4 linked regions of the Homo sapiens genome follow. The protein of the gene in region 1 purifies or fractionates together with the protein of each later gene. This does not show direct contact. Each region holds a gene or a part of one and is shown in the gene's direction. Other genes may lie near its edges. The genes, in order: DPEP1, FASTKD2, ALG6 and UXS1.

Evidence for each region.
Region 2: the proteins of DPEP1 (region 1) and FASTKD2 purify together in Homo sapiens (affinity purification with mass spectrometry; 2 studies listed by BioGRID and IntAct, with this or other methods). This does not show direct contact.
Region 3: the proteins of DPEP1 (region 1) and ALG6 purify together in Homo sapiens (affinity purification with mass spectrometry; 2 studies listed by BioGRID and IntAct, with this or other methods). This does not show direct contact.
Region 4: the proteins of DPEP1 (region 1) and UXS1 purify together in Homo sapiens (affinity purification with mass spectrometry; 2 studies listed by BioGRID and IntAct, with this or other methods). This does not show direct contact.

What each region holds. Positions count from the first base shown.
Region 1 is NC_000016.10:89,609,274-89,616,649, forward strand, and holds the start of DPEP1 (dipeptidase 1 isoform a precursor), read left to right. Parts: upstream 1-4,368; 5' UTR 4,369-4,446; intron 4,447-7,376. UniProt on the Homo sapiens protein: Hydrolyzes a wide range of dipeptides including the conversion of leukotriene D4 to leukotriene E4. Hydrolyzes cystinyl-bis-glycine (cys-bis-gly) formed during glutathione degradation.
Region 2 is NC_000002.12:206,789,600-206,796,622, forward strand, and holds the end of FASTKD2 (FAST kinase domain-containing protein 2, mitochondrial), read left to right. Parts: intron 1-972; coding exon 973-1,087; intron 1,088-2,083; coding exon 2,084-2,203; 3' UTR 2,204-6,590; downstream 6,591-7,023. UniProt on the Homo sapiens protein: Plays an important role in assembly of the mitochondrial large ribosomal subunit.
Region 3 is NC_000001.11:63,362,944-63,370,642, forward strand, and holds the start of ALG6 (dolichyl pyrophosphate Man9GlcNAc2 alpha-1,3-glucosyltransferase), read left to right. Parts: upstream 1-4,683; 5' UTR 4,684-4,744; intron 4,745-7,699.
Region 4 is NC_000002.12:106,184,282-106,191,304, reverse strand, and holds part of UXS1 (UDP-glucuronic acid decarboxylase 1), read left to right. Parts: intron 1-7,023. UniProt on the Homo sapiens protein: Catalyzes the NAD-dependent decarboxylation of UDP-glucuronic acid to UDP-xylose. Necessary for the biosynthesis of the core tetrasaccharide in glycosaminoglycan biosynthesis.

The sequences.
Region 1 (7,376 bases):
AAACTCATGTAATCAACCCATGTAATCCGCCTCGGCCTCCCAAAGTGCTGGATTACAGGCGTGAGCCACCTGCCCAGCCATGTTTATTTTATTAGTTTATAAATTTATTTAAAACAGAGATGCAGCCGGGCGCAGTGACTCATGCCTGTAATCCCAGCACTTTGGGAGGCCGAGGCGGGCGGATCACTTGAGGTCAAGAGTTTAAGACCGGCCTGGCTGGCCGGGCGCAGTGGCTCACTCCTGTAGTCCCAGCTACTCGGGAGGCTGAGGCGAGAGAATGGTGTGAACCCGGCAGGCGGAGCTTGCAGTGAGCTGAGATGGCGCCACTGCACTCCAGCCTGGGCGACAGAGTGAGACTCCGTCTTAAAAAAACAAAAAAACAAAAAAAACCACAGCCTGGCCAATATGGTGAAACCCCGTGTCTACTAAAAATACAAAAATTAGCCAGGTTTGGTGGCTCATGCCTATTATCCCAGCTACTCGGGAGGCTCAGGCAGAGAACGGCTTGAACCCAGGAGGTGGAGGTTGCAGTGAGCCGACATCACACCACTGCACTCCAGGCTGGGTGACAGGGCGAGACTCTGTTTAAAAAGCAAAACAAAACAAAACACAAATGGGAACGTGCTGGGCTTACAGACGTGAGCCACTGTGTCCAACCCATGGTTTTTTTTAACCATTATCCTCCAGATGGGCCCTGGAGGTTCACACTCTTTCCCTCTTATACATGTGTTGGTTTATTGTCTTATGTTATCACCTTTATTTACCTTTGAAATCTTTATTGTCACTTTGGTTAAACAGATAACGAAATATTGTTTCACGATGACATATGATCCTATTTTATTTAAGTTTTCAGATCTTTTGACATCTTTGCCAACTTCCCAAAATCAGAATCAAATTCTAAATTAAATCTTCTTGACCTCAAACGGACTTTGAAGTTTTCTAGAAGGTCCCTGGAAAATCTCAAAACTCAAATCCTTTGAAACTGTCAAATCTTTGAAACTGACAGTTTCAAAGGATTTGTTCTACCACCTTGTTAAAAGGGAGATGTTAAACTAATTCAGTTTATTTGATATATTCAATTACATGGGAAGCATTGTCAAAAGACACTTAACTTTCCATACATTATATTTATATAGTTAAAATGTTGCTATTTCAGAAATTATATAAATGTCCTAAAAATTTGTCAATGCCCTTGTTATCCGATCTGTTCGCCTCTGTTACTGTTCATGATTTCAGTTGTTATTTAATACGTCGTGTGTCACAAAAACAACCAGAATTCATTGTGTGTTGTTTTTATAATGAACTCTCATCAGATCTTTCATTATTTTCAGGTTCTTTTTTTTTTTTTTTTTTTGAGATGGAGACTCGCTCTGTCGCCCAGGCTGGAGTGCAGAGGCACGATCTCGGCTCACTGCAACCTTCACCTCCTGGGTTCAAGCGATTCTCCTGCCTCAGCCTCCCGAGTAGCTGGGACTACAGGCGCCCGTCACCACGCCCGGCTATTTTTTGTATTTTTAGTAGAGACAGGGTTTCACCATGTTGGCCAGGCTGGTCTTGAACTGCTGACCTTAGGTGATCCACCCGCCTCGGCCTCCCAAAGTGCTGGTATTACAGGCGTGAGCCACCGTGCCTGGCCCATAATTTTTTTTATTTTTATGTATTTGTTTATTTTGAGACAGAGACTCACTCTGTTGCCAAGGCTGGAGGGCAGTGGCACGATCTCAGCTCACTGCAACCTACACCTCCTGGGTTCAAACACTTCTCCTGCCTCAGCTTCCTAAGTAGATGGGACTGCAGGCGCATGTCACCACGTCTGGCTAAATTTTGCATTTTTAGTAGAGATGGGGTTTCACCACGTTGCCCAGGCTGGTTTCAAACTCCCGACTTCAAGTGATCCGCCCACCTCGGCCTCCCAAAGTGCTGGGATCACAGGCATGAGCCACCGTGCCTGGATAACTGTACTTATATTTTTATAGAAGCTTTATTGAGACAATTCACACACCATAAAATCCATCCCTTTAGTGTGCACAATTGAATGTTTTTAGAATATTCAGAGTCGCACAGCCATCACTACTATTTAATTCCAGATTTTTAATTTAAAAATTTTCATTGCCCTCGCAGGGCACAGGGGCTCACGCCTGTAATCCCAGCACTTTGGTGTTGTAACCAAGCGAGTTATAGAGAAACACCACACTTTGAGACAAATTAAGGAGTCCTTTATTAGCCTGCGACCGAGAGGCCGCTAATGCTCAAAATTCTCTCGGCCCTGAGGAAGGGGCTAGCTTTGTTTGTATACCGTGGTCTAAATGGGGGGGGGGAGTTTAACTGAAGCAATTTTTATAGAAGCAGAACTGGCAAAAAGTTAAAAAATTAATTGGTTACAAATGCAGTTACAAAAAATAAACAGCTCCAGGTGCAGGGGCTTAAACTATCACAAAGAGATAAATGCAGGGGCTTCGGGTGCCATCCACCGAGCGCGTCCCGAGGAGCTGCTGGTGCAGCTTGCCTCAGTATCTTATCAGTAGGTGCATTCCCAGACGTGCTTTGAGTCAGTCACACTAGTTAAGCCTTAAGGGAGGGAGGTGAAGGGGGCTGCAGGTGAAGAAACTAAAATGGAGTCTGTCCGGCGCTCTCTCTGCTACGAGAAGGTCACTTAGGTTAAAACAAGGTTGGGTATCACACTGGGAGGCCGAGGCGGGCGGATCACGAGGTCAGGAGATCGAGACCATCCTGGCTAACACGGTGAAACCCCGTCTCTACTAAAAAAGAAATACAAAAAATTAGCCGGGCGTGGTGGCGGGCGCCTGTAGTCCCAGCTACTCGGGAGGCTGAGGCAGGAGAATGGCGTGAAGCCAGGAGGTGGAGGTTGCAGCGAGCTGAGATCGCGCCACTGCACTCCAGCCTGGGCGACAGAGCAAGACTCTGTCTCAAAAAAAAAAAAAAAAAAGTCATTGCCCCAAATAGAAACCCATTCCCATTAGCACCCACTCCCCACTTTCCTTCACAGCCTCAACAACCATGAATCCACCTTCTGTGTCTATGGAGTCACTTATTCTGGACATTTCATATAAGTGGAATCACACGACATGTGGTCTTTTGAGTCTAGCTTCTTTCTTTCTTTTCTGAGACAGGCTCCCACTCTGCGGCCCAGGCTGAAGTGCAATGGCGTGATCGCAGCTCACTGTAACCTCAGTCTCCCAGGCTCAGGCGCTCCTCCTGCCTCAGCCTCACAGCAGAGACCACAGGTGCGCACCACCACACCCGACTATCTGGCTTCTGCCACTTAGCGAAATGTTTCTGAGGTTCTTCATGTTATAGCACGTGTCAGCACGTCACTCTTCTTCATGGCTGAGTAATACTCCACTGCGTGAAGAGACACATTTATCTGTCCCCGTGTTGGGCATCTGCACTCTTCCCACATTTTGGCTATACTAAATTGTCCTGCTACGAACACCTGTGTAGTTTCTGTGTAAAGGTACAGTACCTATATGTTGGGGTGATCAGACCCAACCCCAGGTCGTGGGGGTGACAAAGTCCGGCGGAGTCAAAGGATTCAGAAAAACACAGAGAGAGAAAGGTGGCACACCAGGGGGCCATCGCTATTGTGGAGGCTGCAAAAGCCCGAGCTCTGGGAGCCCACGGTATTTATTGGTAATGCAACAAAGAAACAGATGGTGAGAATATGGAGGTCAAAAGACCACGTTGCATTAAGCACATGATTACAGCTGTGCCGGTTTAGCATTTATATGGAGCATGTTCTGCTACTTGAGATAATGGGAATAGGGGCCTAGGAGGGCTAGAAGGAAGGAGCCAGCAAGTCTAGACACATTCCAAAGGACATCATGCAAGCCCTGCCTCAGTTTCCCTCCCAACACCTATATGTCTTGTTGGTATACATGTTGTATTTTCACAACGAAAATGCATGAGAAAAAGGACACAGATGGCTTATGTGTACTGATGTGTAGCATTCTCTAAGATCTGACATCACAGAGCTGGACAGCACAGCTGTGCACGCACCCCCCTGGCTGGGAGGTGGCACATCCACACATGAGGGAAAAACACTGCCAGGACATCTCAGGGCACTCTCAGGAAATGAGGAAGCTGCTGGAGAAGTTTCTAGCCTTGGGGGAGGTCAGGACGCAGAGCCATCTCCTGGAGCAAAGTTCCCTCCTCCTCTCTCCCTCCTCCTCTCTCCCTCCTGCAGCCCTTCCTTCCGACCCCTGGCCCTTTCTCTCCAACCTTCCCCTCCCCTCCTCCATTTCCCTCCTCTTTCTACTTTCAGAGAACACAGGGTTCCTGCAGGAAATGGGGCAGTTTCACCTTCCTGAGGAGGGGCCTGGGAGGGGCAGCAGGTGGCCGGGTAGGGCCAGCCCAGCTGTGAGCCTGGCGTGGGAGCTGCCTAGGCCGGGCCCTGCCAGGGAGCAAGTCTGCATCGCAGAGGCCAGGGTGAGTGGGCTGGGGAGTCGGTGCGCCAGGGTACTGGGGTGCCCACCTGGGGTGGTGCAGGCCCGGGGACCCCAGGGCACCACTGTGGGTGGAAGCTGGGACCAGGCGTGCGGGGCAGGGGACGCGGCGGCTTCCTGGGATTCTAGGAGGCTGAGGCCAGGTGTGTGCGGCAGGGGACGGGGCGGCTTCCTGGGATTCTAGGAGGCTGGGACCAGGTGTGTGGGGCAGGGGACGAGGCAGCTTCCTGGGATTCTAGGAGGCTGGCACCAGGTGTGTGGGGCAGGGGACGCGGCTGCTTCCTGGGATTCTAGGAAACTGGGGCCAGGTGTGTGGGGCAGGGGACGCGGCTGCTTCCTGGGATTCTAGGAAACTGGGGCCAGGTGTGTGGGGCAGGGGACGCGGCGGCTTCCTGGGACTCAAGGAGGTGGGAGAGCTGCTCTCAGACCCGCCGCTGTCCTCCCACTGGCCCTCCCCGTGGTCCCTAGGATGAGGTCTGGACCCGCCAGGCCCTCCAGAGGCCCCACAACCCCGCTTGTCCACTGTGCCGGCTGTTCCTTCCTTGTGGCGCCCAGTGCGGTCCTAGGCACCCTTGGGACTCAGCTCACGTACCCCTTCCTCCAGGAAGAGTTCTCAGAGGCTGTGTGAGGAGCGCCGAGTCCCCGGACTTACTCTCTGTTCTGGAATTCTCTGCGCAGTCATCTGCCTTCCCGCCCAGCTAAGAGCAGGGCCTGTTGTCCGGCCCCACAATTTCCTTCCAGGTGGAAAGGATTTGCTGAATGAAAATCAAAGCTGTGGCCGGGCGCGGTGGCTCACGCCTGTAATCCCCACACTGTGGGAGGCCGAGGTGGGCAGATCATGAGGTCAGGAGATCGAGACCATCCTGGCTAACACGGTGAAACCCCGTCTCTAATAAAAAATACAAAAAATTAGCCGGGCGTGGTGGCGGGCGCCTGTAGTCCCAGCTACTCGGGAGGCTGAAGCAGGAGAATGGCGTGAACCCGGGAGGCGGAGGTTGCGGTGAGCTGAGATCGTGCCACTGCACTCCAGCCTGAGTGACAGAGCGAGACTCCGTATCCAAAAAAATAAAAGAAAAATCTTCTCCCCGGGTAGGGTGCGGGGAGCTTCAGGGTTATCACAGGACATGCTAGAGAGAAAGCCTTGGGCACAGGCGGAAGTTGGAGTCTGGAGCTGCGGCTGGGCTAGCGAAGGGCAGAACCTACTTCGGCCAATGGCTCTTACACAGCCAAGCTATTTTCATGGTGAGGGTCTAGTAGCCTCCACATCTCTTGGCGAATTCTTGCTGATTGGCGTCTGACCCCATGGAGAAGCTCAGTGGGTGTCATGGGTGGAAGGGGGCATCTAGGGCCTCCAAACGTGGAAGTGTCTCTAAAATACCTCCCGCTGGGCCTCAGTCTCCTTGTCGACAAAAGGTCAGCTTTGACAAATCTCCAGTCGGAGGCCAGGAGCAGACGGGGAGGGTCCCTCAGTCCCTGCTTGCAGCTTCAGGGGGACGTAGGCTGCGGTGGACGGACACTGAGCCCCAAAGCGGCCTCTCAGAGCCGCCCCTGAGGGGTGGCCTCACAGGTCGGGCTGAGGCTCCCAGCTCCCACTGGGTACAGAGCGGGCAGGCGGGCCTGGCAGGGCAGTGGTGCTGGTCTACACGCAGCTCTGGAGTCTCTGGACCTGTGTCCTGTGCGTACATCCTGGCTCCATCTCCCATGAGCCAGGGGGCTGGACCTGTCTTCTCTACCTCAGTTTCCAAGAGTAGGAGACAGGGGTAACAGCAGCCTTGCTCTCAGGGGTGAGGGCGTGGGTTAAAGGGCAGGACACCCATGGAAGCAGTGGTGGCTCCGAGCACCTGCTCAGCCTTCCCAGGTCTTCAGAGCCCACAGGCAGAGCCCACCCTGAGGGAGGAGCAGCTGGTTCTTGGGTGAAGTGAGCCCCCAGGACCCCGCCTTGCAGGACCCCGCGAGGCCCCGGTGAACTGGAGCCGGGAACCGGCCCCACGGAGGCACGTTGGGATTTGGCCACCAGAGGGCAGGAGCTGCAGCAGCCAGGCAGGCGGTCAACACGGGGGCCCCGGGGTCCTGGCCGGCTGGTGGGGTGTGAATTGGAGAGGAGTGGGCTGTGTGGAGGGAGACCAAGCACCAAGGCCCGCCCTGGCCTCTGAGTGTCCACCCCTTTCACAGGCCCATTTCACAGATACTGAGGCCCAAAGGCGCAGGGCTCAGGCGTCCCCTACGTGTCGTGTCCCCAGGCAGGAGAATTACTTGAACCTGGGAGGCAGAGGTTTCAGTGAGCTGAGATCACACCACTGCACTCCAGCCTGGGTGACAGAGCAAGACTTCATCTCAAAAAAAAAACACAAAAAGTGAATTTAAAATGCTCCCTGAACTCCAGCTGGGGTGCGCAGCAGGAGGCTGGGTCCGTGGGGCTTCGGGGGCTGGGCTGGGGGTTCAGGTGGGTGGGGGAGTCAGTGCTGTGGGGATAGGGCTCAGAGCCCAGAAACAGACAAGCCCACACAGGTAGCCAGTGTCGACGAAACAGGAGAGGCTGGGACCTGTGCCCTGGAAGGACACAGCCAGCGGGTCCTGGGTCACCCACTCCGGGGCTGACCGGGCACAGTTTCACAGAGCAGTATGGCCCAGCCAGCTGTGAGAGGATCGGACAGACGGGCGGAAAGGAGGGGAGACAGCGGGTGTGCTCGGGGCTGTGCCGGGAGGGGTCCTTGGATGGAGGAGGGGGTCGCCAGGAGGCATCTGCATCCCCGGGGTGGTGAAGACCCAGCGTGTATGGCCGACCTCGAGGACAGGGCGATTGCTCCACCAGAATGTTCCCAGATGGCACAGATGCTTCTGGTTCTGGCACTGGGACCTGCAGCAGGATTCCCGGGTGGCTTAAAGAGGTTCCTTGAAGTTTGTGATCAGGAA
Region 2 (7,023 bases), on another chromosome or scaffold:
CACACATAAATATGATAGAAACATACAAAAAAATCTGTAGGGATCCAAGCTCTTATCTGCCCATCCCTCTTCATTCACACACAGTTCTGTGACTTTCACCTCTTTCTGAATGCATCTAGCTTATTTCTTGGCCATCTTTTCAACCGCTGTCTTTCCTATTAGTGCTACCCATCTCCCCTCAGAAGAGGCTTTCTCTCTGACCTCATTCCAAGATCAGTTTTCTTTTTCGGGTACTCCGCTATTCTGGCATAATAAAATAACAGTTGTTCTCAGCATAAAGTCATGAGAAGTGAAGAATGTGAGCATTCCTTTAAAAACATAAAATTTGTCTTATAACAGCCAGAGTATAGGTGAAGGCAGTAAGGATATAAATGTCTTTTTTTTTTCTTTTTTTCTCCCAGTAAACTTAGTATTTCCAAAGTGCCAGGAACAATGAAAAAACAAATTACACCTTCCACATTTTCGTTATATTTACAGATTTTATTTTAACAGTCTTGCCTTTCTCTTGGTGTTTTCTTTCTTGTATTTAAACTCCTATTTCTGTTTTTTAAATGCTGCTTTCTCTGGGAGATGATATGTGTAAGAAGAGCATTTACTATTTGGTATTATTTACACCGTTACTACTACTGGTAGAATAAATAATTATACTCAGATCAGAAATCAGCACTACACAGAAAACCCTTAAAATTGGTGCTTTCATGTCTGAAAATTTTCCTCTTCAAAAATGTAGCCATCCTTAAAGGGAACTGAGAGGTAACTGTGTATAATGTTGTATATTTTTGATTTATAAAGTAGCCTTGTATAGTGGAATATCTGCAGAGGCCAAGTAAAAGAAGTGAAGGACTAAGACAGGAATATCAAGGATTGTGGTCGGTGGAGAGCTCAACTTGGAAATCTCCAGAGAACAAGAATGCAGCAAGACTAAATAGTAATATCAATAACTGTTCTTGTTTTGTTTATTTTTGTTTTCAGAGTAGCTGTGCTATGTGTTTCCAGATCTGCTTATTGTTTGGGTTCAAGCCACCCCAGAGGATTCCTTGCTATGAAAATGCGGCATTTGAATGCAATGGGTTTTCATGTGATCTTGGTGAGAAAAAAATGCAAATGAAATATTCTTTAATTACTGATGTACATTCTAACAGCTGCCAGGAATCTTGTGGTTGAGACTGGTTACTAGGACTAGAGGAATTGTCAGCATTATTGGAATGAGTGCTTTAGTTACTGTTTTCTTTGAAAAAGAACATTGCTAGTACACGATTTGGGTTCTGCTCAGCTGATTACTGTCATTACTAGAGCTTTTACAAATGTTGTTCTGGTCAGCTTTAATCCTTTTTTGCTAAGAAGAAGAATGCAAATAATATATTTTCATATTTAAGATACACAAAACCATATTTAATTTCCAGGTTATCTTGAACAAGGGAAGGAAAGATGTTAAAGCTTTGTTTTCATGGCCTGTGTGAAGCTGTTACAGGATGTTTGTTGCCAGAAAAGGCTGGATGGTTTTAAGAAGATGGGTCTTTCTCTTCCCTCTTATGCTTCAATTTTATTTTGTACCCCACAGCTTCTCTTGAACAGCCTCTTCTGATGTTTCTAGGTAGTAGGAACCTTACAAATACATTTATATATATGTTGCTGTTGGAATCTATCTAAATGCCACTCATTTGGTCCTGCGCATAATGTAAGATGTAAACATTCCAAGTCTTCTATTATTATACTTTAGTATTGGAAATGGATTACGTGTGGACTATTGAGATTAAGATGACTCCTTTCTCTTAGTGGGCTACTATTTAAGACTTTGTTTTTTATATTGCTGATTATATATATTCTAAGGAAGATTTTCTCAAGAAAGCAGTTTTTGCACCATTTAGAGGACCTTTAAAATTTGTATAATTTTCACAGTTAAAGCTTTCTTAAACCCTAGCATGTAGTCTTATTATGCCTTTAAAATATGAGTAGTTATAAGGTCACATTTGCTTTCAAAAAGCTATTGTCCTCATGTTACTTTACTATGTTTGGATCTCTAAACTAGCTCTTTTGTTAGTATCGTCTCACAAACTGATTATTTTCCTCTTTCTTTGGTAAGGTCAATAACTGGGAGATGGACAAACTAGAGATGGAAGATGCAGTCACATTTTTGAAGACTAAAATCTATTCAGTAGAAGCTCTTCCTGTTGCTGCTGTAAATGTGCAAAGCACACAATAAAGTGAAAATCAACCTTTTCATATTAGGAGACATGCATTTGTAAAAATTAATAAAGATGACAAGTCAGTTGTCAATGGAATTGAGCTATCTGCTAAGACAAAAAATGTTACCTCAGTTCACTATTAAAATTAATTTTAGGAGTGGAAGAAATGTTGTTACTGCCATTTAAAAATATGCTGAGAAAATTCCAGAAGGGTTATTTTTCCAACCACACCTATTCCCTCTAGTGCCCAGATATTTGATTTGTGAGCTGTACGTTTCACCTTTTCATCTTTGATCTACTAAAAACTGGTTTCTTAGTTGTGAGGTGTCACAGGCAGGTTGATGTGGGTAGTAGTCCTTGTCTTTGGAATCTGAATATTTATACTCCTGCTCTAAGCTGTTCTAAGACTTGGGGTTATGCCTTTAAATCATTTTCAAGCATTGGCCAAATAATAATTGGACAAAGTTCTAAAGTTGTCAAGTGTGTAAGAATTAGTGAGGTAGCTGTTGAAAATGAGTGAGGATGGTATTTGTATTTGTAATAAGCACTGCAGGTAGAGATATTTCATGGGTTATAATAAGAGAAACACAGATGAGATGTAGATGGTAAGGAGTCTTACTGTTGTTGGGGTCCTTCCTTTCTCTTTCTTTTTTCCCCCTTACCCCTCCCACAATTTCATGAAGTCTTTTAAATTAAATATATAGCTGAATTGTGTTGTGAATCAGACCTGAGGACTATTTTTTCGATTATGTGTGTTCATTCTTTGTTCAAATATTTGTCCAAATTCAACTATTTTGTTCAATATGCCTGTCTACCTAGTATTTGGCTCGCTGGGGATATAGTGATGAATAGGCATGGTCTCTTGTGGAACTTACAGCATGGGTTCCATGCAAGTTGGTGTTATTCTGCCCCCAAGCACACAGACATGCAATTACTAGACATCTTAGTATGTGCCGGGCACTGCTAAGTATTCATTTGTGTGCTGCCTTTTCATGATCTGAACCCTTTGAGGTGTAGCTGCTATTATGATTCTCTCTGTGTCTTCACTTCCTCATCTCTAAAATCAGGATAGGTATTTGCCCAAGGCTACACAGAGTAGGGGAGGGCTGGAGTTTGAATGTGAGCTAACATAGGCTTATAAGAAAATACAAAAACTGGGCTGGGCACGGTGGCTCGTGCTTGTCATCCCAGCACTTGGGAGGCCGAGGTGGGCTGATCATGAGGTCAGGAGGTCAAGACAATCCTGGCCAACACGGTGAAACCCCATCTCTACTAAAATACAAAAAATTAGCCGGGCATGGTGGTGCATGCCTATAATCCCAGCTACTGGGGAGGCTGAGGCAGGGGAATCGCTTGAACCCGGGAGGTGGAGATTGCAGTGAGCCAAGATGGTCCTGCTGCACTCCAGCCTGACCACAGAGCGAGACTCTGTCTCAAAAAAAAAAAAAAAAAAAAAAAAAAAAAAATACAAAAACTATAGCAATATGACAACAGCTGCCAGGTTGTATCAATTTATCCAGCTTGCATTTAGAAAAGGTTAGAGCTGAAAGGAAATTTAGTGATTATTTAATTGTTACTTCCCTCATTTTATGGACGAGGAAGATAAGGCTCAAAGAATTTTCCTTTCCTGAAGTCTCAGCTATGCCATTGGTTCCACATCATTTCATCCTCACCTGCTCTTCAGCTTGTGTCCCAGGAGATCAGGCTTCTGGTTCCAGATTGGACAACCTCTAGTTTTGTATACTTGGCCAAGTGATTTAACCTTATAAGCTTCAGAACAAGATGCAGATATTCTGTTATTAAAGGAACTAAGGTTTTGTCTTTAAATGTTGAGTGTGCATCAGTTTTGAGTGTCTAATTATGACTCCTCTTCAAAGGATTTGACAAATTTGTGAATATTTATGACCACCTTTTAGGGTAGTAATTTTCAGTTTGTACTAGTTAACCTGGCAGATAAAAAGGCATCCCTCTTTTACTAGCATTCTAGTGTTAGCATTCTTCATTGCTTTGTGTCAATGAAAGAAAAATGGGCAAAGAGCTGATGAACATGAAAAAAGTTCAGTCTACTTGTAAAGACATGCACATTGAAACAGAAGAGATGGTTTTGCCTTTCAAATTAGCAGTTTTTTTTCTTTTAAGAATTACAGTGCTGATGAAGGTATAATGAGGCAAGCACTTGCATAAGCTGTTGGTAGACTGTAAATTAATACCTTTCTGGAATGTACTTTGTGGGGTTTTCTTCTCCCATAATTTAAAAAATAGCTTTATTATAGTATAATTGACATACAGTAAACTGCATATATTTAAAGTGTACCGTTAGGTCAGTTTTGACGTACATACACACACACACACATCTGTGAAACCACAATCAAGATAATGAATATATCTATCACCTCTAAAAGGTTCCTGTCTTTGCTTTTTTCTCTGTCCCCTAAACAACCACTGATCTATGGCACACATAGAAAAAAATTAGGAAATATATTAAATGCTCATTTTGTGTGAGATATCCAAATATTTTTTTCAGAATCCCTAATGAAAAGGTTGATCTTGCTCTAGATACAAGATATAAAATTGTATTCTTGAAATAGCTACATGCAATTCTTTTTTATTATTTTTTAATTTTAATTTTTAGATTTTTAAAGATGGGGCCCTGCTATGTTACCCAGGCTAGCTTCAAACTCCTGGGCTCAAGGGATCCTCCTGCCTCAGCTTCTCAAGTAGATAGGACTGATTATAGGTACAGGCTACTGTGCCCAGCTCAATTCTTGATTGAGACATTTACCAGCTCTCCGAATTCTCAGTAGTTACCACTGAATAGAAACTTTCTTTACACAAAGCTGATTAAACAGTTTAGAACTTTTAAAAAACATTCAAAAATTGAAAATTTCATATATACATAGCCTAACAACTCTTCTTGTCATTGACAAAATGTGATGGTATTTTTTTTGTGATAATACACATGGACCTCAAATGCAATTGAACTATTCATATCAAGTATTTCCAAATAACAATGACATTCCAATTTATAGAATGTCATGTGTTGTGAGGGTAGTCACCCTGCAACTGGCTTGGACATCTCTAAGCAAATAGAAGTTTCTGTAAGATAGAGATTTGGGGCATCTACTTGGAACTACCTATGAGGAGCTGGCATTCCTCAAATCCCAACTGACTGCACTTTTCCATGAAATTACCCAGCAGTTATGATGGTCAGTGGCTCACTCAGCAGCAAGCCACTTAGGTAGCTGGCGAGGGACGTGGCACAGCCTTGTCTTCACACAGCACATCACAGCCAGGCAGCAAAGGACAGATCTCTCTCATACTCTTCATTCACAGGGCCTGAGAGGTGGACCATCAGACTCCACCCTGTTTTGCGCTGACTTGTAGGGAGACCTAGGTGTGGAGCTTCCTGGCCAGGAGGGCAGTGGCTGCCCAGAAGGCAGGAGATGGCTATCTCTTTTTTTTTCCTGAGACGGAGTCGTGGTCTGTCGCCCAGGCTGGAGTGCTGTGGCGTGATCTCAGCTCACTGCAAGCTCCGCCTCCTGGGTTCAAGCCATTCTCCTGCCTCAGCCTCCCGAGTAGCTGGGACTACAGGTGCCCACCTCCATGCCCGGCTAATTTTTGTATTTTTAGCAGAAACAGGGTTTCACCATGTTAGCCAGGATGGTCTCGATCTCCTGACCTTGCGATCTGCCCGCCTTTGGCCTTCCAAAGTGCTGGGATTATAGGCGTGAGCCACCACCCCCGGTCCAAGATGGCTATCTCTTAACACACTTGTAACCCATTTGTGCACACAGGTGTGCCGTGACTCACTGGTGGATCCAAAAAAAGCTGAAGCCTACATTTCCCAGAGCCCCTTTCAGCTTGAATTCCAAATGTGACTTAGCTTCCTCTATGCAGATGTACCTACTTGAAACTGGGAAGGCCAAATGAGATAGAGGTAATGTTTCTGCCAACAAACAGCCACAGAGCATTTTATTTTTCTAGAAGAGCAATAACAGAGACCCCAGGGTGTGGTGTGGCAGGACGAGGAGCATCCATTTTGCTGGTGGGGATTGTGGCTAAAATAATGTGGCTCTGGAGCCAGCAATGGGCAGCATCTTCATGACTTTCCAGCTTCCAGGCTGTAAGCAGAGATAGCATCTCTTCTGGACAGCCAGTTATGTGATAGTGTTCTGAGAGTCATTCCTGGAAGTCAGACTAAAGGCTGCTCCTTCAGCCTTTCCATTCATCTTGTAAGCAGGAGGCTTCTGTGCATGGCCAGAAACTAACAAAAGCACATTGTGTCTAAACTAGGTTGCAGTGGTTTCTGTTATCAGCAAGTAAATCCTGATTGATAAAGATACTACAATATATGCACATATATATGTTATAGAATCAATAAAAATTGGATACTTTGCTTTAAAAGTTTGTGAATTTTGCTTTTAAAGAATTTCCCTCAGGGCCGGGCACAGTGGCTCACACCTGTAATCCCAGCACTTTGGGAAGCCAAGGCAGAAGGATCGTTTGAGCCCAGGAGTTTGAGACCAGCCTGGCAACATGGCAAAACCCCACCTGTACAAAAAATAGAAAAATTAACTGGGTGTGGTGGCATGCACCTGTGGTCCCAACTACTCAGAAAGCTGGGGTGGGAGGATCGCCTGAGCCTAGGAGGTCGAAGCTGCAGTGGGCCAAGATTGTGCCACCGCACTCCAACCTGGATATCAGAGTGAAACCATGTCTCAAAAAAGAAAAAAGAATTTAAAAAGAATTTCACTCAGGGTTACAGACACTTAATGTTATTAAGACCCACTAGGAACACCTGTGTATACTGCTGGCTGGTTTTACATGTCACCCCACC
Region 3 (7,699 bases), on another chromosome or scaffold:
TCCCACTGAGAGGCAGAATCTATTTCCACTCTCCTTGTATCATGGCTAGGTTGCTGTGTGACTTGTAAGGCTGGGGTGTAAGAGATCTGCAACTTTTGCCTTTGCCGCTTGGAATGCTCTCTCTGGGAAGTGAGCTGCCGTGTAAAAAGTTTGCGAAACTTTCTGAAGAGAGAAGCCCTGTGGAGAGAGGGCTGAAGCTGTTCACGGATGTTTCAGCCTGAGCTGATCTCCCAGCTGAATGCAGCCTCATGAGTGACCTCAGACAATCCCAGTGGAACAGATGAACCACCTACCTGAACCCTGCCTAGATTCTTGATCCATAGAAACATGAGCAAATAAAATCATTGCTATATAAGCCGCTAAATTTTGGAGTAATTTGTTACACAGCAGTAGATAATTGAAGCCATCACCTATTAGTCAAACTGACTTTAGAGATTAATAGTATTCATTTCATATTCTTTCCCATCTGCCTTTAAAATGCACCAACTTTTTTTTTCTTTTTTTTTCCCAATGGAGTCTCGCTCTGTCGCCCAGGCTGGAGTGCAGTGGTGCGATCTCGGCTCACTGCAAGCTCCGCCTCCCGGGTTCACACCATTCTCCTGCCTCAGCCTCTCGAGTAGCTGAGACTACAGGCACCCACCACCACGCCCGGCTAATTTTTTTTGTATTTTTAGAAGCGATGGGGTTTCACCGTATCTCCTGACCTTGTGATGTGCCTGCCTCGGCCTCCCAAAGTGCTGGGATTGCAGCCGTGAGCCAGCGGGCCTGGGCAACAACAACTTTTTTTTTTTTTTTTGAGACGGAGTCTTGCTGTGTTGCCCAGGCTGGAGTGCAGTGGCGCGATCTCGGTTCACTGCAAGCTCCTCCTCCCGGGTTCACGCCATTCTCCTGCCTCAGCCTCCCGAGTAGTTGGGACTACAGGCGCCCACCACCATGCCCGGCTAATTTTTTTTTTGTATTTTTAGTACAGACGGGGTTTCACTGTGTTAACCGGGATGGTCTCGATCTCCTGACCTCGTGATCCACCCGCCTTGGCCTCCCAAAGTGCTGGGATTACAGACGTGAGCCATTGCGCCCAGCCAACAACTTTTAAGATGGATTATACATTAGTGTAATTTGATTTCAGATAATTTTTTTTTATTTTTTTGAGACAGGGTTGTGCTCTGTCACTCAGGCTAGAGTGCATTGGTGCAATCATGGTTCACTGCAGCCTCAACCTCCCTGGGCTCAAGTGATCCTCCCATCTCAACCTCCTGAGTAGCTGGGACTACATAAGCACACCACCACACCTGGCTAATTTTTATATACTTTTTGTAGAGACAGGGTTTCGCCATGTTGCTCAGTCTGGTCTTCAACTCCTGGGCTCAAAGGATCTGCCTGCCTCAGCCTCCCAAAGTGCTGGGATTACAGCTGTGAGATACTGTGTCTGGTCGTGGTTTCAGAGAAAATTTTCAGATAAGAACAGTAGGCTTCTGGTGGGGATGCAAATATATATATGTATGGGCTGCTATATGGTAGGAGGAAGAAGACACTTCAAAGAAAGGCTATGAAAAAGTGAGCACATGTTAAAGACAAATGATAATAGCTATTATTTATTGATTGCATACTATATGCCAGGCAGTATATTCAAGTTTTATATGCATGATTTCATTTTACTCTCATTAAAATTCAAAGAAGATGACATTATTATTAATTCTTTTTTTTTTGTAGGTGAAGTAATTATGCCAGAGACATTAGGAGACTTTACCAAGTTCACACAGCTAGAAAGTAGAAGAACTAAGATTTAAATCCAAACCTGTTTGTTTTCAGAGTCAGAGACTAGTTCTTAATCACCTTTCTACACTGCCTCTAAACTTGATCTGCTTTACAATTTTGCTATGGCTTATCCTTTTTGCTTATAGTAAATGCTATCATTCAAAATGCATTTTCTGAACATCTGTTATGTAAAGGCACTGGATATTCACATGTGAAAGATGATACCTATTGAAGGTAAAGAGCAGGAGAAGGTATATAGATGGCAGTGGTGAGACAATTCAGCTATGAGTTAGTGACTGTGATGTCTCTTCCGCTATTTATTCATGAACATTTTGAGCATTAACTTTTTGTTAAATACTGGGTCAGAAGCTGTTGGGTTGAGAAACAGGAAGGAGAGATTGATACCAACTTCCATCACTTTAAGATGTATACTTTTTACATATTAATATTTCTGAAATTATATGTTTTACAGTAATTACTAGCTTAAATGGTAGCATTGTTTTCTTCCTCAGTGGTACATAAAATAATGGTGCTTTTTACAAGTGGTGGAACTTTAGATTCAATAAAGTATGATTTTTGGTCTGCCAAACATGGTTCTTGTTCACCAGATGCTTAATATTTATGATCCTGCAATGTAATGGATTTCTCCCTACATTTGTAACCATGTAACATCCTTCACCAATGTGCCTTTCTCCTTTTGGCCTGAGATAATGCATTTATTCAAGTATGGTTGTTTATTTTCTCTCTATACTGTCTCCATCATTATTCAGCAAATGAAACACTTTCATCTCTCTATCTTCACCCCAATTTCTTTCCTGGGCTCTGATTCATAACTGACACCTGAGTATTACAACTTTCTTGTCTTTATGTTACCGTGAACTCAATACAATGAACCATCTTTCCCTCCAAGCCAGATTATTCTCCAGGCTTCCCAAGATCTATCAGTTCTTGGGAACTGTAATGCACACTTGAAACCTTGGGAGCCATCCTTGATTCTTCCCTCTCCTTTGTTTCACTTGTACATATCTAGTATGCTATTAAGACCTGTACACGAGGCCAGGTGCAGCAGCTCACGCCTGTAATCCCAGCACTTTGGGAGGCCGAGGCAGGCAGATCACCTGAGGTCAGGAGTTCGAGACTAGCCTGACCAACACAGAGAAACCCTATGTCTACTAAACATACAAAATTAGCCAGGTGTGGTGGTGCATGCCTGTAATCCCAGCTACTCGGGAGGCTGAGGCAGGAGAATTGCTTGAACCCGGGAGGTGGAGGTTGTGGTGAGCCGAGATCGTGCCATTGCTCCCCAGCCTGGGCAACAAGAGAACAAGAGCGAAACTGCGTCTCAGAAAAAAAAAAAAAAGACCTGTACATGTTTCTTCTTGCATTGATCTCTCCCTTTGCAGTTCCACTATTGCCATCTCAGTCCAAGCCCTTGTCTAATCATGCGTGGACTGCTATAGTCTCCCTCTGATTCATCTGATCCATTTTCACCACTTTAAGTTTTCTCTAACACTGTAACTGTACTGTATACTTGACTCCCTGCTAAAAGTCATTTAATAGCCCCTTACTGATCACTGGATACATTCCAGACACCATAGCCTGGTATTCAAGGCTCTCTACAATTACCAGTCCTTTCCAGCTTCATCACCCACCACCTAAACTAGAGGAAATGTTCTACACTTTTCAGCTGCCACAATATTTGGCTTGAACCATTTCCTTTGTCTAGATTCTTACTCTCATTCTCTGGGCTTATCCAGCCAGGCTTTCCTTCAAAGCTCAGCTGACTCCTCCAGGAAAAGCATTTCCTGATGGTTTGCAGTTTACAGTGAACCCTCTTCTCCTAACTCCTACAGTGCTTAGTGCATATGTAAGTAATGTAACATTTAGTATGTGTTTCCTTCTATAGCTTTTTATCCTTTTATGCATAAAAATGTCTTTCCAATGAGAATTAAATGCCTTGAGGGCAGGGACCTGCCATATTTCTCCATATTCCCAGTGCTGATGGTCTTTTAGATATAATCATATTTTAGACCTGGAAGTTCACCTAGCCCTACTGATTTCTTTCACAGTTGAAGAAACTGAGGCCCAGAGAGAAGTTATTCAGACTCAGTAGAAAGCCATAGTCCTAGCCAAATATTTGCTAACACTTACAAATTATAGGGGTTGGCTTACGTAGAATGGCAAGATTCAGAAGTGGGGAATGAGGGCACTCTCTGAACAAAGGAAGGCAAGTAAAAATCATCACAGCCGTCCATGCGTGATTGGACAGAAGCCTAGACTGAGATGGAAATAGTGGAACTGGAAAGGAAGGGATCAATGCAAAAGGAAAAGTGTGCAGGTCTTACTAACTTACTAGATAGGTATTTTTGGCAAGTTTGGGACCAGGTGATTCAAGCTGCCCGCTGGGGCACGTGTAGTGGCTACTCGAGGGCAGGGCTGTCCTTTTGCACAACGCACAGGCTCTCGCAAATGGTTGGATGTTCAATGTTTCTTACTTTAGGGGGCTGCCCAGTCTTCTTCTTCGCAGGCATGTGGCTAGAAGAAAGTGAAGCAGGTTGGCTTTCTGGCTCCTCGAGGGCACAGGCCCAGAGGTGGTGAGGACCGGCCAAGGCTCTCTGCTCAGTGCAGCAAGCCAGGGCCCGCCCCTGACAGGAATCCGTTGGCTAAGCAGCCGCTCCGGCCTTGGCCACGATCCCAGGAAAGAAGAGCAAGGGGCTTTCCACCTGCCCCTAGCCTAACCCGGGGCTGGGGACCTCTCGGGTTCCATCGGCTCTTGCCCCGCCTCCTAAGCCGGCCGCCTCCTGTCCAGGCCAGGTTGCCCGCCCCTCCCCTCACGCTCGACGGGCTCGCTCCCGCACCGGGCGCGCGGGTGGTGCGCGGGCACACGGAGGCGGAAGGCCGGAGGGGCAGTCCGCCGCGGGGGCGAGCGCGCATGCGCCTTCCTGGGACCCACGGCAGGCGCGAATCCCAGCGGCCGGCGGGCGGCGGGGTAAGAGCATGGGATCCCGGAGGTTCCGGACCCCAGGCCAGTGTGGGGAGGTGCCGGGGGCTCGGACGCGCCACGAGCCGGCGCAGAGCTGGCGACCCGTCTCCCAGCTCCGCTCCACTCCCAGGGACGCGACGCGAGGCCTCCCCAGCCCTTCCTGCAGGGTCGCTTGTGGGTCGGGTGAGGGGACGCGGTGATAGTGGTGGCACTTGCAGGCTGGGGCGGTCCTGGCACCCTTGTCCTTGCGGTTCTGAGGGCCTGGCCCTCAAGAGGAGGGGCGGAGAAACGCGAGAAGGGATCCCTTTCGCCCCATATACACGCCCGGGATAGCTGCACTCCCCGGTGTTGTGTCCACTGCGGTGGAAGGACCTTTCAGACTAAAAGGAGCAAAGTCGGTTCTGGGATGGGGACGGCGGGCTTGGCATTTGTCGAGATGCACCGTCAGGGCAAAGGAGGACGAAAAGCGCATCTACTGCCTGCCTAGCAACTTCGTGGCCAGTGGATGGGTTAGAAAATTACTGTTTTCTGATTTACAGGTGGAAAAAGTCGCAAATAACCCTTTTTCTGGTTTAAGCAGAAGAGAGTCGTTAAAAGCCTCGCATAATATCTTTAACCACACAGGGCTCAGTAAAATTAGGGTACCTCCCCGCTTCGTACACACAGACGCACACAGCTCCATTCAGCAAATACTTCTTGGGTACCTGCCTTCTGCTAACACTGTTCTACAAGTGGGGAACAGAGAGCAACGACTAAGACAGGAGGATCCCTGCTCACAGGGAGCCTTTAGTCAACACATCCAAGTAATTTCCTTTTACACTTTTTTTTTTTTTAATTGAGACAGAGTCTTGCTCTGTCGCCCAGGCTGGAGTGCAGTGGCACGATCTTGGCTCACTGCAACCTCTGCCTCCCGGGTTCGAGCGATTTTCCTGCCTCAGCCTCACGAGTAGCTGGGATTACAGGAACGCACCACCACGCCCAGCTAATTTTTGTATTTTTAGTAGAGATGGGGTTTCACCATGTTGACCAGGCTGGTCTCGAACTCCTGACCTCAGGTGATCCACCTGCCTCGGCCTCCCAAAGTGCTGGGATTACAGGGGTGAACCACTGCGCCCAGCCCCTTTTATGCTTTTTAAATTGGAATATACCATATAGAAAAATACTGTACGCAAATTATAAGTTGTAACTTGTTAATTTATCCTAAAGTCAACACATTTCCTAACCACTACTCAAATCAAGAAGGAAGATTCACAGCATTTCAGAACACCTCTCTGGGCACCCCTCCCAACCACCATCCCTTCTTTCCTCCCCAAAGGTAACCTCTTTCCTGATTTTTAACACCATAGATTAGTTTTGCCTATTTATGAACCTTTCATGGAACCATATGATATGTATTCTTTGGTGTCCAGCATTTATACTGAAAATTATGTGTGTGAGATTGCACCATGTCATGTGAAAATACAAATCCTGTTAGTGAAAAGAATTAGGAAGCAAATTGAAGGTAATGATACAAACAGTAAGGGGAGGAAGCTTTAGTAGGATAGTCAGGGATGATCTTTCTGAGGGGATGATTTGAGATTTGGCATCAATGACAAAAGATTAGCCATTCCAATCAGTTCTGGAGTTATCCCGTGATGTTTTTATTTTAAATAAGAAAATAATTAGGGCCGGGTGCAGTGGCTCACGCCTGTAATCCCAGCACTTTGGGAGACCAAGGAGGGTGGATCACCTGAGGTCAGGAGTTCAAGATCAGCCTGGCCAATCTGGTGAAACCCCGTCTCTACTAACAATACAAAAATTAGCCAGGCGTGGTGGTGGGTGCCTGTAATCCCAACTACCTGGGAGGCTGAGGGAAGACAATCGCTTGAACCCAGGAGGCAGAGGTTGCGGTGAGCCGATATTGTGCCATTGTACTCCAGCCTGGGCAACAAGAGCAAAGCTCCATCTCAAAAAAAAAGAAAAAAAAACAAATAAAATAAAATAATTTTAGATCATTAGGTGGAATGTACCAATTTTGCCCTAAATTTTTTAGTTGATTTATTATATTTTCTGAATATATTTAAAGTGTATCCTGTGGTTAAAATGGTCCAACATTTTTCAAAGAGAAGAGGAAAATGTCAATTTTGTCGATTTGCTTTTTATTTTTTTTTGTTTGAGATGGAGTTTCGCTCTTGTTGCCCAGGCTGGAGTGCAATGGTGCGATCTCGGCTCACTGCAACCTTCACCTCCTGGGTTGAAGCGATTCTCCTGCCTCAGCCTTCCAAATAGCTGGGATCACAGGCGAGCGCCACCATACCTGGCTAATTTTGTATTTTTAGTAGAGATGGGGTTTCACCATGTTGGTCAGGCTGGTCTTGAACTCCTGACCTCAGGTGATCTGCCCACCTCGGCTTCCCAAAGTGCTGGGATTACAGGCGTGAGCCACCGCAACCGGCATCAATTTGCTTCTTACTTTAAAACCCCAACCTAAGGAAAACTGTAAAAAAAAAAAAAAAGTAAGTGGTTAATTGAGTTTTACTGCTTTTGTATTTTTTTCTCACGATTTGGGATTATTCTTAATGATTCTTAAAAAGGCTCATTTCTCTAAGATGGAAAGTTGGTGTGGTTAATGCAAGTATATTTTGGAAGAAAAGTAAAAACCAAACTAGATAAATTGTTTATTGGAAGACTTTCCCAAACTAAATACAAAGACAAGATTCCTCTTTCTCGCTGTACCAAAGATAAATCATGCCTTTGTCTACGGTTGTGGTTTTATATTTACCTGTAGGTGAATGTGTTCTAAATAGAATTGACTGTGTCATTATCTACATATGTGTTGTTTTTCTTTTCTCAGAAATATTCCCTTGTGAGAGTAAATCTTTACTATATCTTTAGATGTATTGAGTCCCATTTAATAGGGAGATCCACCTTTTGATGTATATTCCCAACTAAAGGACTAGGGAATAAGGAACTTAAAATACC
Region 4 (7,023 bases), on another chromosome or scaffold:
TACTTCCCAATTATATACACCCTCACTGTTAGCCAGCCTCCGTTGCAGAAATGCCCTCCCTGTTTCGGGAACAGAACTCAAGTTCTGTTAGCCTTTCTCCTTCTCCTCCTTACATCTTTCCCAAAGTCTTTGTTACCTACTCTGGCCCTGAGTCTCCTCCTTGATACCACATAACTCTTCTTCATGTCTTAGGGTTGACCACCTGCTAACTTGCATTGTACTTGAGTTCTTTCCCATTCATATGTTGGCTTTTTTTTCTCAATGAAATCCCGATTCTGAGGACAGGGATTGTGTCTTATGTGTTTCAGCCCTTGAAACATTTATAGCAGTGCTAATGGCTCATTGAAAGAACTCAGTTTCTGCCCTTTGTGCTGAATCAAAAATCAGGCCAACCTACTAGGTAGCTCCTGGGCAGACTGCTTGAATTACCTTTAACGTATTTTTTTTTAACATGCATATAGTGTAAAAAGTTAAATAGCTTCTGCAGGGCCAAACAGTATCCCCTGCCACCATTTCCCTCTCCCCAGAAGCAGGCACTTCATTTCTTTTTTTTTTTTTTTTGATACAGAGTTTCGCTTTTGTTGCCCAGGCTGGAGTGCAGTGGCGTGATTTCGGCTCACTGCAACCTTGGCCTCTTGGGTTCAAGCGATTCTCCTGCCTCAGCCTCCTGAGTAGCTGGGATTACAGGCATGCGCCACCACGCCCGGCTAATTTTGTATTTTTAGTAGAGACGGTTTCTCCATGTTGGTCAGGCTGGTCTCAAACTCCTGACCTCAGGTGATCTGCCTACCTCAGCCTCCCAAAGTGCTAGGATTGCAGGCGTGAGCCACCGCACCCAACCCCTAGGCATTTCACTTCTTTTAGTTGATTATTTTGGTATTTATCATTGTGCCATTGAATCACCTGGCTTCCTGATTTTTCAGTTGTAGATATTACCTAGTGACTTTGTTCTTTGGGAGATGATTTTTTTCTTCTCTTTGCCCCTGTACATGCTCTCCACCCTCCTATATAGATGTGGTATAATCTCACGGAGCTCATCATGCAGTGTTTACAAGCATGACTATGTAAATGCTGTTCCTAGTGAGTCATGTTGTAGGTTACTTTTTGTTTTCTCCAGCGAATAATTGGCTGGTGTTCTAATTTGCTTGCTTTCTATGTAGTATGACAGATCCAACTCCAAACTCTTTGCCAGTTGTCTGTCGCGTCTTCCCCCATGATGTTCATGAGCATCAGGATGCCCCTTGGTCAGCACCCCTTCCTGAAGAAGGGCCCCGGGGCCTTCTACTGCAACTTGTGGATACATCTGAGGGTCAGCTGCCAGCCTCACCACCTGCACCCACATCAGCCTGGACCTACCCACTGCAGGACTTCTGTTTCCTGACTTCCTCTTCCTGACTCCCTCTTGTTTCACTCCCTGGTTTGGATGTGATGGGAAGTGAATTCTGAGACTTTACCCATAAGTATATTTTCTGCCTTCATGTCTGATAGATTGATAGTGTAGAATTATAGAAAAAAAGTTCCTTTAGAATTTTTGAAGCATTGGTCCAATCCTTTTTGGCCTCCAGTATTGTTGAAGAATTTCAAGCCAGTCCTTCTCTTTCTGAAGATTGTAGCATCTTCCTTTCGGGTCTAGTTGTCAGTGCTCGCCACACATGTCCAGCCCCCTGTCCCCCAGGCTCTTGGTAGGATTGCCCTCCCTTCCTCACTCCCTGAGCTTGATGGCCTCACATGGTTGTTGTGCCAGTGGCCTGCCCAGGAGCTGAGCGGAAGTGCTACTTCCACTTCTGGGCCTGCACTTCGCTGCGAGTGTAAGTTGCTGCCAGAGTTTTCCTTCCCTCTAGTTAGGTTCTGAACTCAGCTTGACAATGATGATACTCAGCTTGCAGAACCCCCTCCCACCCATGCTATGACCCTGTTCGATTGAAATAAACTTGAAGAATAAATCTTGGTTGTTGTAGGCCTCTGAGGGCTTTTGGGCTGCTCATTGCTGTAGTTTAACAATGCCTGCCCTGACTGATACATCCGTGGTGTTCCAAGATCCACAGTGCTAGGCCTTGGTGTATTTTATCCAGCATGTTGGGCATTTTTTGTGCCCTGGCAATCCAGAAACACTTATTCTTCAGTTATGGGAATTTTCTTGAATTATTCTTTGGTGATTTTCTCCCCTCCCATTTTCTATTTCATCTCTTTCTGGGACTACTACTATTCTGATATAGGATTGCTGGACCAATCCTCTTATTTCCTATTTTCTACCATTTTAAGGTTGTTGCACTTTTGGGACGTCTCCTCATTTTTGTATTTAGACTCTTCTAGTGATTTTTTTACATTTTATTTTTGCCATACTTTTTCATGTATAAGAGTTCTTTTTTGTTCTGTGAACTTTTTTAAAAAACTAAAACATGGTCTTCATTTCATGGTATATTCTCTGGATTTTTAAAAAATTTGTTTTCTTTTCTCTTTACTGAAGGATCTCTTTCCTCTAGGCTGCCTTCCCGTTTCTGTGTGAGGCTCTCCTCAGATGGCCTGCCCATGTTTAAGAGTGGGGGACTCTGTAGGGATGGGCACTGCCTTCTGTGAGCTGAACCTTTCCTTGTTGGGGCCTTCTGACCTTAGTGCTGCGGGTTGGTCCTCCCGGGCTATTGTCACAAGACTCTCCCTGGTCCCTGCAGGAAGGGGAGGCTTGGCTGCCTGCATCCTGGAGCCCAGTGAGCGAGGGCTGTAGCCTAATCAGTAACCTGATTGTCCCAGGGGGATCTGGGCTCCTCTGTCAGAGACCCTGATTCCACCCTCTCCAGAGATGGAGCCACCTGTCTTCTGCCAGGGTGGGACAGGAGCTGGAACTTGTCCTGCTTCTTAGATGTCTTTGAAAATCAGACTTCCTGTCTCTGCTGCCTCCACACCCATTGCAGATGCTCCAGGCCTGGCCCAGTTCTTGACCCTAAGTATAAATGGGCCATTCCACTGCCCGCCCACGTCCGTGCCCTCTCCATGTCCCCATATTCACCTATCTTCTTTTTCCTATCCAGTAGCATTTTGGTGCCTGTTCTCCCTTCCCCTTCTCCCTGTCCACGTGGATTGATTCCTTAAACAAGAACAAAAAAGAAGTCAGGGAGGAGGGATATGGAGAGAGGGGCAGGGAGGAAAATAGATTGCCTATATTCAAAAAAAGAAAAGAAATCAAAGACAAAAGACATTTTCTGATGTTTTAGTCGGGTTTAGGAGCCATTATCTTTTCACCTTTAGCCTTTGAAAGTTAGAGTTAAGGCTGGTCGCGGTGGCTCATGCCTGTAATCCCAGCATTTTGGGAGGCCAAGGCAGGTGGATCACCTGAGATCGGGAGTTTGAGACCAGCCTGGCCAACATGGTGAAACCCCGTCTCTAGTAAAAATACAAAAAATTAGCTGGGCATGGTGGCGGGCGCCTGTAATCCCAGCAACTCAGGAGGCTGAGGCAGGAGAATCTCGTGAACCCGGAGGCGGAAATTGCAGTGGGCCAAGATCGTGCCATTGCACTCCAGCCTGGGCAACAAAAGCGAAACTCCATCTCAAAAAAAAAAAAAAAAGGAAATTACAGTTGTGACATTGTGACATCTAGTAACATTTATGTAATTTTTGGTGTATTGTGGATTTTGTTGTAGTGACATTTTAGTTGTGGTACCTTTCTTTCCTGTCAGTGTTACTTAACAAGAAAAGAGATAAAACCTGAAAACCATATGAAAGAGTGTTTTATGTGTCTTAGTTTTGTGTTTATGGTAATAGACTTCAAACTTCCCTGAGGTTGGGACTTTGGTTACGGTACAGTTTTGCCCTTAATATAATCAGCTCCCACATGATCGGCAATTGCCCTCATAAATTCATTCGGGACACAATTGTTAGCCTCTGCCTTGGAGGATGTGCAGCAAGTTAGATATCACTGTGACGCCAGAGGACCCTGGGGGACAGCAGACAGCTAAAATCCAACAACCTAGTACCGGTGGCATTCCCAGGCTGACCCGAGCGTGAGATCAGCTTGGGCTTGTCAAATGCAGGTTCCTAGGATCCTCCTAGGCCTGTAGGAGCCTGAGGGTTGGAGGCACAAGCTGGAAATTGTGAATTTTCAACATTTTCAAAATTTCCTTTCAGATTTTCTATCTTTTCTACTAAAAGAATATTTTAGTGAACACCCAAATACTCTCTGCCCAGATTCACCAGATGCCTACATTTTTTTCCACATTTTTCTTTTTCTTACTTTTTTTGTATATATTTTATATATACTTTTTTTGTTGAAATATTTGAAAGGTGCAGACGTAACAGTACTTCACCTTCAAGTACTTTACATATATCTCCTAAGAATAAAGGTATTCTTCTATATAATCTCATTACCATTATCACTCCCTAAAAATTAACAAAATAATATCTAAGATATAGTCTATATTTAAATTTCCCCCCATTGTACCATAAATGACTGTGATAGCCTTTCTGAGATTTTTTTTTTGCTTCTGTTTTTTTGAGACAGGGTTTCAATCTGTTGTCCATGCTGGAATGCAGTGGCATGATCTTAGTTCACTGCAGCCTCAAAATCCTGGACTCAGGTGATCCTCCTGCCTCAGGCTCCTGAGTAGCTGGGACTACAGGTGTGTGCCACCACAGCCAGCTAATTAAAAAATTTTTTTTTGTTTAGTTTAAAATCTAGGACCCAGTCAAGATTTACATGTTGCATTTGGTTTTATGCCTCTAAATTTCTGGAGCCATAGTAGCCTGATTTTTTTTTGTTTGTTTGATTGTTTCTCATAACATTTACCTATATATGTGTGTGTGTGTATATACATATTTACGTATATTCATGTATATGTGTGTGTGTGTGTGTGTATATATATATATATAAAAGCCCAGAGCAGTTTTCCTATAAATGTCCCACATTCTGGATTTGTCTGATTGTTTCCTTATGATTAAGTTCAGTTAAACATTTTTATAACAATGCTTGCTAATTGGTGTCGTTGGGAACATGTAGTGTCTGGGCTGGTCCCACTTGACACTGTTCAGTGTGACCCCTGGAAGGAATGGCCTCTATGCTGCTTCATTTTGAAGGTACATTTTTGCAGTATGCAATCTGTGGAGTGATTCTTGCCACCTGTGCGAATATCTTGTTCTCCAGCCAGTGCATTTCATGTCCATTGACGATCCTTGCCTGGACCGATTTTTCTGTTGGGGATTGCAGTTAGTGATTTTCTAATTTTGTAAATCTTTTGATAGTTATTAACTGGTGGTGTTTTGAAAAGAACTTTCCCTCCCTTTTTCTTCTCTCACTGTATTAGTTTCCCGTGGCTGCTGTAACAAATTACTCCAAATTAGGTGCCTTTGAAACAAGAGATATTTATTATTTCTAAATCTGGTGGCCAGAAGTCTGAAACCAAGGTGTTGGCAGGGCTGAGCTCCCTCGGAATGCTCCTCTGTGGCTCCAGGGTTTCTTGTCTTTTGCCTGCACTGCTCCAGCCTCTGCGGTGACATGGCCTCCTCCTTTTCTGTCTGCTAAATCTCTCCTGGGTGTTTCTTATAAGAACATTTGTCACTAGATTTAGAGCCCAACTGGATAATCCGGGATGATCTTTTTGTCTTGAGATCTTTAATTACAGCTAAAAAGACCTTTTTTCCAAGTAAGATAACAATCACAAATTCTAGGAATTGGAATGTGGACATATTTTAGGGGGCACCGTTAAACTCATGGTGATCTTTCTTTAATCACTGTGGACCCGTAGCTTCTTTTAGTCTTTGAGCACTTCCTTAATGTCTAGATGTTTCAGGCTCATTTTCTTTTTCTACCCCAAACCTGGAATCAGCCTTCTCTCCAAGGAGCCAGAATTGAATGGAATCATTGGCCACTTGCTTGGTGTCTAGAGAGTGGGAGAATTGGTTGGTAGTATGGGAAAAGCACACACACGTGGTATCAGAAGTGTTCTGTAGGTAGAAACAGGGTTTAAGACTTGGGCATCTTTATTTTCAACAATTTTCCCATTTTCCACCATAGTTCCTAAGAAAATGGACAAGGTAAAGTAGTCAAGGTAAAGTGCTGAGTACCATGAGAGAAATGAGATCTGGGACTTGGAGAGAATGGGATGCCCTTAAGACCTGGGGCATTGAGTTGGCATTTAGCAGAAGGATACAATTTGGGCAGTGGAGTTGAAGGTGAAAGTGATGGAATGAGCAGAGGCTGGAGTGACACAATGCCAGGAGCAGGAGTCTTTGTGGCCCATAAAGGCAGAATGTGGAAGTCTGACCTGACATAAACTTGATTTAATGACATGAGTAAGCCCTCCATAAGAATTTGTGCAGCATGAGAGAGATTTTGATGAACATGCCTGAAGTGTTCAGACATTAGGGCAGGGCAAAGTATAATCAGTTTTGCATTTTGGGGTTGGCCCGTGTGGCCTGAAATGTGCTTTGTGGTGTGCATGTCTCCTGAGCTGCCTACCTTTTGTAGATATGTGACTGGATTCTAGTCCTGGTATATGATATGTATGGTACTTCTGTACAGGCCAGTGCTGTGATCTGAATGTTTGTGTCCCCTGGAATTCACATGTTGGAACCTAATCCTTGAAGTGATGGCATTAAGAGGTGGGGTATTTGGGAGGTGATTAGGTCAGGAGGCAGAGCCCTCATGCATGGGATAGTGTCTTTGTAACAGAGGCCCAAGGGAGTTCATTCCTCCCTTCCACCATGTGAGGATACAGCAAGAAGGCACCGTCTGTGAATAGGAAGTGAGCCCTCACCGCCAGTGTCTTGATCTTGCACTTCCCAACCTTCATAACTGTGAGAAACAAATTCCTGTTTATTAGCCACCCACTGTGTAGTATATTTGTGATAGCAGCCTGAACATGGACTAAGACAGCTGAGAAGTCAAGAACATGTCTGATGTGAAGTTGGAGAGCTTTCACAAATAGATATGTTGAATAGGTGAGGCCAGTTACCAGATTCTTCATGTGTACTGAACCCACATTAATGTCTACTGCAAATTTCTTGTCTTGCTTTTTGTCTTACAAATATGACA